Linked DNA regions of Homo sapiens: region 2 is linked to region 1. The links come from fine-mapping of genetic effects on gene expression. A gene starts in region 1. The other region holds a variant in brackets. All regions are shown on one strand. Distances are between the middles of the regions. Region 1 holds the start of CLEC5A (C-type lectin domain containing 5A). Region 2 has its middle 31 kb from the start of PRSS37.

Region 1 (4,408 bases):
TTGAAGCTAATTGGAACAAAATTTCAGGGCCAAGGGGATATTATCAGACAAGGAAGCAGGTGAACTTTAGGGAGATTTTCTATAAGCAGGGAAGGGTCCATTCATTTCTAGAAATCCATATAGGGGCCTCATTTCCCTGGGAACACTGGCTGTCTGAGCAGGCAGCCGCAGTGGCTTCAGAGGCTGGTCAAACATCTAATTGGGCTGCCAGTTATTTGTCCATTGTGGTTGAAGACCACTTTACTCTGACATCAAATTAGTTACTTACATTTATCTTAATGAAACAAATTGGCATTCACTTTTTATTTCAGTACCCCGTTTATAGACTCTAAGATGTAATAGCCTGGTTTTCATCAGAAACTACTTTGAGATTATAACTTAAGGACTCAATACATATTTTATGAGTATTTTCTCCATACAGCTCACTGTATTGGGTTGCCTCTGTTGATACTAAGATAAATGAGAAACGGTCTTTCTCCTAACGATGTCAGTAGTAATAGGTGTCTTAAGAGGAAGTGAGAGGATGTTGTTGGGAAAGGCTTCAGAAGGAAGCTGGTTTAATCGGGAGAGGAGAACCATGCCCCACTCATCTCTCTATCTCCCATAGCTACTGGCTATTAAGCACTTTCACATTCTATTACAATGATTAGATATAAATCATCCCCATATCCAGGAGAAAAACTAAGGATCAGAAATTTCCCTCAGTCTGCTCTTGGTTTTCTCATATGTAAAAGAAAGGGAATTAATTAGAAGATCTTTATGGACCCTTTGTACAAAAGAATTTCTTGGGAAAGGAGGCTGTGTGGAAGGTCTCTAGGAATTCAGCATAGAAGTAGCAGGAGGATGGGGAGAAGATTTACCACCATGCAGATTACCTGTTCCATAGCTCCTGGTGGTGGTGAAACCATCGTTACTTTTGTTAAAAATCTGTGGGACTGAAAAGAAAATCAGCTGTTGGCTCAGCCCCAAATGTGACTGCATGATGAATATGACAAACAAGTATCAGCACAGGGGCTGCTAGGGTACTGTGACTATTAGTGGGAAATACTGAACTCTCTGACTCAGTGAAGATGCATAAATGTGGTTTTGTGAATACGTTCCCTTATTCATATTTCTGTCCTGCTGTCTGACATGATAGGAATTGCACCTTCAGATTGCATCATGAGGAAGACACCTCTTAGCTAACTACTGCCTCCCACTCACGTTTCCTTCCTCATTTATTTTCCCTACTGGCTTCTGGGGCTAGAGAAGATTCTAGTTTCTGATTGCAGTAAAATCCTTTCATAGGAGGCTTCTTTAACTAGGCATTTGGATGAATTAATTTATATGTATACAAAGAGAAATTTCTTTCTCAGTTAAATCCTGTTACATTATACTTCAGCTCTTACCATGGCCTTGTCATTGGGTTGAACTGGAGCTGTATTTTAGATTTTGCCAACAATAACAAGCGCTGCCAAGTACTTCAGCTGAGATCACCCAAATAATACTCTACTAGCAAAAGCTTTGCGTGGCGTTCTAACCATCAGAAACTGGTAAGTTCTATATCTCCAAGGTAGACCAAGGAGCCTGGGCCACTGTGTGTGCTGGGGAGTGAGAAAGGCATTGCCAATTGACCTCAGGTTGGGTCAGTTAGTCTCAGGTGGAAAGACTTGGATATGTAACCTTTACACACAACCATGCATTCTGAGAGAAGAGTCAATGAGCAAGACAACATGAAGTCTGGGGCAAGAGGTTGCTCAAATACTCACAATAAAGTAGAAATAAGGTCATTCCAACAACTTTAAGCACTACCACAATAAGCCCAGAGATGATCATGTGCCAGTTCATGATGAAGGAGCTGCAGGGGCCTGTGAAGATTAGAGCACAGCAGCATCAGAATTCGGGTACAAGGCTGCTTTTCACTAGGACATATCCCAGCCTCTCGCTCAGAGTACCCAAAGCAAGGCAGGCTTGGAAGACAGGCATGACATTGACAGGTACCAGGAGGTGACCCAGCGTGGGCCGCGAACACAGAAAGAATCATGTATTGATTGGAGCCTTGGAACTTGGCATACTGCCTCTCCTTCACTCATTCCCTACTCCAGGCCTCAGCCTTGCCCTATTTGTGGCCTCCTAAATTCTGTCTAATAATTAAACCCTCTCCTGTATTTTGAGAACCCTTATCCTTGAAATGACCCTTGTTCCCAAGGACCTTAGTCTGTAGCCTTCACCATACTGACTTAAGTTGTCAGAAGCCTCAGTCTTCCAAATACCAGGGGTAGGTGACAGACAGGACAGGCATCCCTGAAGGTCTTGGCATTGGTCAACAGTCCATGCAGCCAAGACAGACAGACAGACTCACCTCTTTCTCCCTGGAAGGCTAGGCTTGCTTGCAGATGGGGGTCTTCCTGGTGGCCTAATGCTTGGTGTGGCAGGCAGGGGCCCCGTCTCCTGAGAATATGCTCCTTTTGCCCAAGCAACGTTCTTCCTTCTTCACAGTCTCTGCCTTGGTAGCATCCCCAAGAAATACCTCTTCCTGTTCAGTGGGGTTCTTGGCAAAGGGAGCAGGCGGGGCAAAGAAGGGAAGAGACTCTCTAGCCCTAGTGGTGGCAAGAGCAGACTTCCTGCCAGGAGAGTTCTAATGCAGAGGAACATTTTAAGGACAATTTGGAAAACAAAATACCTCAACACAGATTCACCCTTCCTCTGTGTCTAAATCTCCTTGAAATACAGTGGGAAGAGAAATGTAGTAAAATTTTAACAAACATTGAATCTGGATAAAAGGTAGCTGGAAGTTATTTGTACTTTCCTTACAACATTTCTGCAAGTCTGAAATTATGTCAAGTTAAAAATGTTAAGAAATCCAGTTGAAGACACTAATATGAATGAGCAGGTTCTTGCTGTTCCATTTGCTCCATTTGCTGGAGCTCTGCTCATTCCCCTTTATCATGGACTCCTCTCTGGCACCACCTGCTCACCTTCCAGACCTCATGGTGGCTCTTCAGTGTTTCTTGAACATGGCACTCTGCTGGATACAGCAGTGGGCTGGGGTGAACAATACTCAAGTCCTATTGTCAAGGAGTTTTTAATTTCGTGTTAAATTTGAAAATTTGCTTTTATTTTCCCTACTATGAAAACTACTGTGCTCATGACAAAAAAATGGCTGGAAAATATTAACAAGGAAAATTGAGAAAACAAAACCATTTATAACCTTGTACATTTAGTTATAGTCATTGCTAGCACCTCAGGGTGTATCCTTTCGAGATGAGTAGGTAGATAGAAAGATAGATGGATAGATAGATAGATAGACAGAAAAACACTGGTTCACAAAGAACAATGGGAACATATTGTACATATTGTTTTGCAATCTATCTGCTCAAGATTAAGCTAACACTATGTTATATATATCTTTTCATGTCAAAATATAGATTTTGATAATGTATTATTTAATATGTGCATAGCATTCAGGTGTAAAACTATATGATTTATTTATTCAGGTGTAAAAGTATATTATTTCTTTAACAATTGCATAACCACAAATCTTCTAGTAAAGTGTGGTGGACAAGAACAAAGTTTTAAAAATCAGTCCTGCTTTTGATTCCTGGAGCTGACCTTCACTAGCTGAACATCCTTGATTAAGTTACTGAGTCTCTTTACCTTCCATTTCTTTATCTATAAATAGGAGTAATTATAGTAAATACCACATAGGATTGTTCCGAGAAATGAGCAAGATAATGCTTGTAATTTCAATAGCGTGATACTCAGCATCTTAAACATAAATCCTTAGTATTCTAACTATTTTCTAAAACTCTTCTAACTATCTTCCCAATGCACAGTGAACAGCTAAGTGCATGCATCCTTTTACATGTCCTTAATAACTTTCTTGGGCTAAGTTATCAGAAATATAAATGCTGGATCAAAAGACATGTACATTTGGAGGGCTTTGGAACATTAAAGTTGTGTTTTGTTCTACTTGGATAGTCCTCTGTGTTTTTGAAAAATCTCATTGAACCTGATTTATCTGGTCACAAGGTAATTACTTCTAGACCCTAGATTGCTGTCCAGAAGGATCCATATATTTATTGGACAATAAATATGGCCAATTATGCCAGCTATGTTAGGAAGTATGGGAATCAGGAGACTTGGTTATTATTATTTAGAAAGTTTTTAACAGAGACTTTCTGAATAACTTAATAAAATCTATACACTTGGATAGCAAGTGAATCTTTTATAACAAAGAGGTATAAGAGATCTTTCAAATATCATCAAAAGAGAAGAAAATGTCATAGTATAAAAGGATGTCCACAGAAGTTTTGGGGGTAGTACTCTGACTGATGCATTGTGGGACACCTCTGCTCTGCTAGAAAATCTAAAGAAAAATCTAAATTCTTGTTCAAGGCTTCGCACTGCAATGCTTCTCTTAAACTCG
Region 2 (4,408 bases), 74 kb before region 1:
GATCTTTGACAAACCTGACAAAAGCAAGCAATGGGGAAAGGATTCCCTATTTAATAAATGGTTCTGGGAAAACTGTCTAGCCATATGTGGAAAGCTGAAACTAGATCTCTTCCTTACACCATATAAAAAAATTAACTCAAGATGGATTAAATACTTAAGTGTAAGACCTAATAGCATAAAAACCCTAGAAGAAAACCCAGGCAATGCCATTCAGGACACAGGCATGGGCAAGGACTTCATGACTAAAACACCAAAAGCAATGGCAACAAAAGCCAAAATAGACAAATAGGATCTAATTAAATTAAAGAGCTTCTGCACAGCAAAAAAAAAACTATCATCAGAGTAAACAGGCAACCTACAGAATGGGAGAAAATCTTTGCAATCTACCCATCCGACAAAGGGCTAATATCCAGAATCTACAAAGAATTCAAACAAATTTACAAGAAAAAAACAACCCCATCAAAAAGTGGGCAAAGGATATGAACAGACACGTCTCAAAAGAAGACATTTATGCAGCCAACAGACATATGAAAAAATGCTCATCATCACTGGTCATCAGAGAAATGCAAATCAAACCCACAATGAGATACCATCTCATGCCAGTTAGAATGGCGATCATTAATAAGTCAGGAAACAACAGATGCTGGAGAGGATGTGGAGAAATAGGAACGCTTTTACACTGTTGGTGGGAGTGTAAATTAGTTCAACCATTGTGGAAGACAGTGTGGTGATTCCTCAAGGATCTAGAACTAGAAATACCATTTGACCCAGCGATCCCATTACTGGGTATATACCCAAAGGATTATAAATCATTCTACTATAAAGACACACGCACACGTATGTTTCTTGCAGCACTGTTCGCAATAGCAAAGACGGAACCAATCCAAATGTCCATCAATGATAGATTGGATTAAGAAAATGTGGCACATATACACCATGGAATACTATGCAGCCATAAAGAGGATGAGTTCATGTCCTTTGCAGGGACATAGATGAAGCGGGAAACCATCATTCTAAGCAAACTATCACAAGGACAGAAAACCAAAGACCGCATGTTCTCACTCATAGGTGGGAATTGAACAATGAGAACACATGGACACAGGGCAGGGAACATCACACATTGGGGCCTGTAGGAGGGTGGGGGGCTGGGGGAGTTATAGCATTAGGAGAAATACCTAATGTGTGTAAATGATGAGTTGATGGGTGCAGCAAACCAACATGGCACATGTATACCTATGCAACAAACCTGCACGTTGTGCACATGTACCCTAGAACTTAAAGTATAATAAAAGAAAAAGAAAAAATTTCACAATAAAAAAATGCTTTTCAAAACAAAAGGATGGAGCATGTCAAAGGGATACAGGACCCAACCTGAGTCTCAGTCTTAGTCCCTGTGGGATGCTATAATGGAATACCGTAGACTGCATGGCTGATACAAAATAGAAATTTACTTCTCACAGCACTTGAGGATGAGAAATTCAAGATTAAAGCACTAGCATATGTGGTGTCTGGTGGTGGTATAAGGGGCAAGAGAGGTCACTGGGGTATTTTTAATAGGGTCACTAATCACATTTATAAGGGCTCCCTCTTCATGACCTAATCACCTTCCAAAAGTCCAACTCTGAATACCATCATCTTGGAGATTGTGTTTCAAGAATTTGGGGGGAACACAAATATTCAGTCTATAGCAGCTCCCAATGGCCAAAGCTAGAATAATTTAGCATATTAAATGATGTAGAATGAATTATAACTTATAGTATAAAATATTAATATTTTATAAATATATAATGTAAATGAATGATTGAATAAAGAAATAATTTAAGAAATTACTTTTATTTTTCAGAACTGCTTTGGCTATTCTCTAACCACTTTCCATATAAATATTGAAATCGGTCTGTAGATATCCACAAAAAACTTGCTGACATTTTGATTAGGAATGTATTGAAACCTTAGATCAAATTGTCTTAAAGCCTCAAGGAATAGGATTCTTTCAATTCATGTGTAATTCTAAATGTTTACCCGCATGGTTGAATGGCAATCCTTTGGTGGTAGGAAGCCAATCCCTAATTTTTTCTGTCTCCCATCCATGTTCTCAAGTCTTATTTTTAATTTAGGTATATTTGTCTCTTCTCCATGGCATCAGGCTTCCTCATAAGTCTTCCATCAGTGTGTGCCAGTGACTTTATGCTTAAATCTTATATCTTTCTATTGCCACGACAGCAGTGTACAAAAGTATCTAACAGGCTTTACAACTCCTCAGAAGCCATGTACATTTATCAGATCCTTATTTTAGAATCGTCATCCATTTTAGTTCCTATAGCTTCATTCC[A/G]AAGAGTTAACATTATTTTTGAATACCATGCCTGATGTCATCTTTTCCGCTCAGGTGCACTTTCAGTGGTTAGCAACTCTGAGCTTATTATAGACTCTGCATCAGAGGAGTCTACCCAAACTTGGAGTCTCCCTATTAAAAAAAAACTGCCTAAACAGTTACTTTTATACTCACATACTCATTTTTATATGTAAATATTTATATAATTTTCTATTAATAACCCTTGGACTCCAAACTAAAAGGAAACAGCTGAAACCAAAGGGACACAAGAAAGCATCTACATAGCTCACGTATAGTAAATCTACCTTCTGTACTATCCTCCCTTAGAAAATTATTTCTAGACTTTTCATTGTTCATTTTCTGTTTAGGTCATAATCTTCTATGCACCATGTCAAATGATCTTATATTAGCTAACAAGTATGCAGAAGTTACCAACTTTTGAGATCACAACATGGGCCTACATAAACAGTATATGTAGGTGCAACAGTAAGTAATCATAACATAGAATATGTTTCGATTACATGTATCTTTCAAGTGTGTATTTGTGCTATTGCAGTGAATATAAACAGAAGTTTATGTAAAAATAATGTTGAATTTGTGGTAGTTTTTGCCAGGAAAATGTTTTTAATTGTCCTTTCATCATTGACTGTAATGTTTTTGCTATATTTATATTTTTAATTTAAATATTTAAATTATTTAAAATCATAATCATATAGGCATAGTTTAAAAAATTTAAAGTAATTGTAAGTGATTGATATAGGAAAATGGCAGATTGTTTCTCTTTCCCATTTTACTCATGGTACTACTCTTCAGAGTCAAAAACTTTTTTTGGTACATATTTAGTAATAATATGCTTATATAAATATTTCATAATTTATGAAATTTATTCTTTCTGTAATTAATAAGTTACTTATTAATTTTTAAATGCAGTTCCTTTCCCCCATCCCCAAATAGTTCTACATACATCTCAAACCTAAACCTAACAAAGCTCTGGCTTTGTGTTCTGTAGGCCTGGTATAGAGCTCTTGTGCAGGGACATCCATTCACAGTTTTCATGTGATAGCTTTCGTTTTACCAACTTTTCTATCTTCTTCTTTTTTGGTTTGCTTCCAAGTTTTGATGGAGCAGAGCTTCTAGCATCTTTTAATGATGCTACTTTTAGAATCCTCTTTTTATCTTAGGTCTGCTACTGATTATAATACGTCATGGGGTATCTCATTTGGATTGAATCTGATACCTCATATCTTACACCTAGATATTTACATCTTTCTCTAGGTTTGGAAAGTTTCCTGCTATTATTTCTTAAATACTATTTATACCCCTTTCGCTTTCTCTGTCTTCTTTTGAATCCTGATGACCCATACTTTTGGTCTTTTGATATTATCCCATAAGCCTTTAAAATTTATTTTCATTCTGTTTTTTACTCTTACTGTATATTGTTAAATACTTTGAGTTCACACGTATTTCTTCTGTTTGATCAATTCTGCTGTTGATGCTCTGTATTGGGATTTTAAATTTAGTTTATTGTATATTTCAGCTCCAGGATTTCTTTTTTAATTTCCATTTCTCTGTTAAGTTTCTCACTAATTTCTGTATTATTTTTCTGTATTTTCTTGAGATTCTCTGAGCTTCGTTAAAATAGGAACTTTAAATTCTTTGTTAGGCTGTTCTTCCATCTCCATCTCTTTAGGGTCAGTCAGTGGCACCTTATTTTGTTCAATGGCACCTTATTTTGCCTGCTTAGTGATGTCATGATTCTCTGATTTTTCTTAACCTTGTGGCTGTGTGTCGATGTTTGTACAATGAAATAGGTACTTAATGCAGTCTTCACAGTCTGCCTTTGTTTGGCAGTGTTCTTCAACAGTAAGCTGGTTGAGAAACTCGGGGCAAGTTTGCTGGTAAAGTCCCTGTGCTTGTGATTGCTTCATCTATTGTATCACTACGGGGTGCTCTAAGGCCAGGCTGCCACAGAAGGAATCCCATGGCCACTGACATTGATGTAGCCTTGGCTCTCACTCAAATCATATGGCCATTGAGATTTGTAGCACTGAGGCCTAATCAAGACCTGTGGCTTTTATG

The links. PIP is the estimated chance that this variant, and not a neighbour inherited with it, causes the effect. A credible set is the group of variants that fine-mapping cannot tell apart.
Region 2: its variant is the best candidate, but not a certain one, in a credible set for the expression of CLEC5A in whole blood (TOPMed, PIP 0.55).

The regions. Positions count from the first base shown.
Region 1 is chr7:141,944,466-141,948,873 of GRCh38, forward strand. It overlaps CLEC5A (C-type lectin domain containing 5A), which reads right to left and starts at 2,509. Exons shown (of 7, transcript NM_013252.3): 1 at 2,342-2,509; 2 at 1,749-1,847; 3 at 876-935. The coding sequence starts at 1,827. RefSeq lists an enhancer at 991-2,190.
Region 2 is chr7:141,870,729-141,875,136 of GRCh38, forward strand. No RefSeq gene overlaps it. Among named protein-coding and RNA genes, the nearest start is that of PRSS37, 31 kb to the left of the region's middle. The variant A/G (reference allele first, on the strand shown) is at 2,330.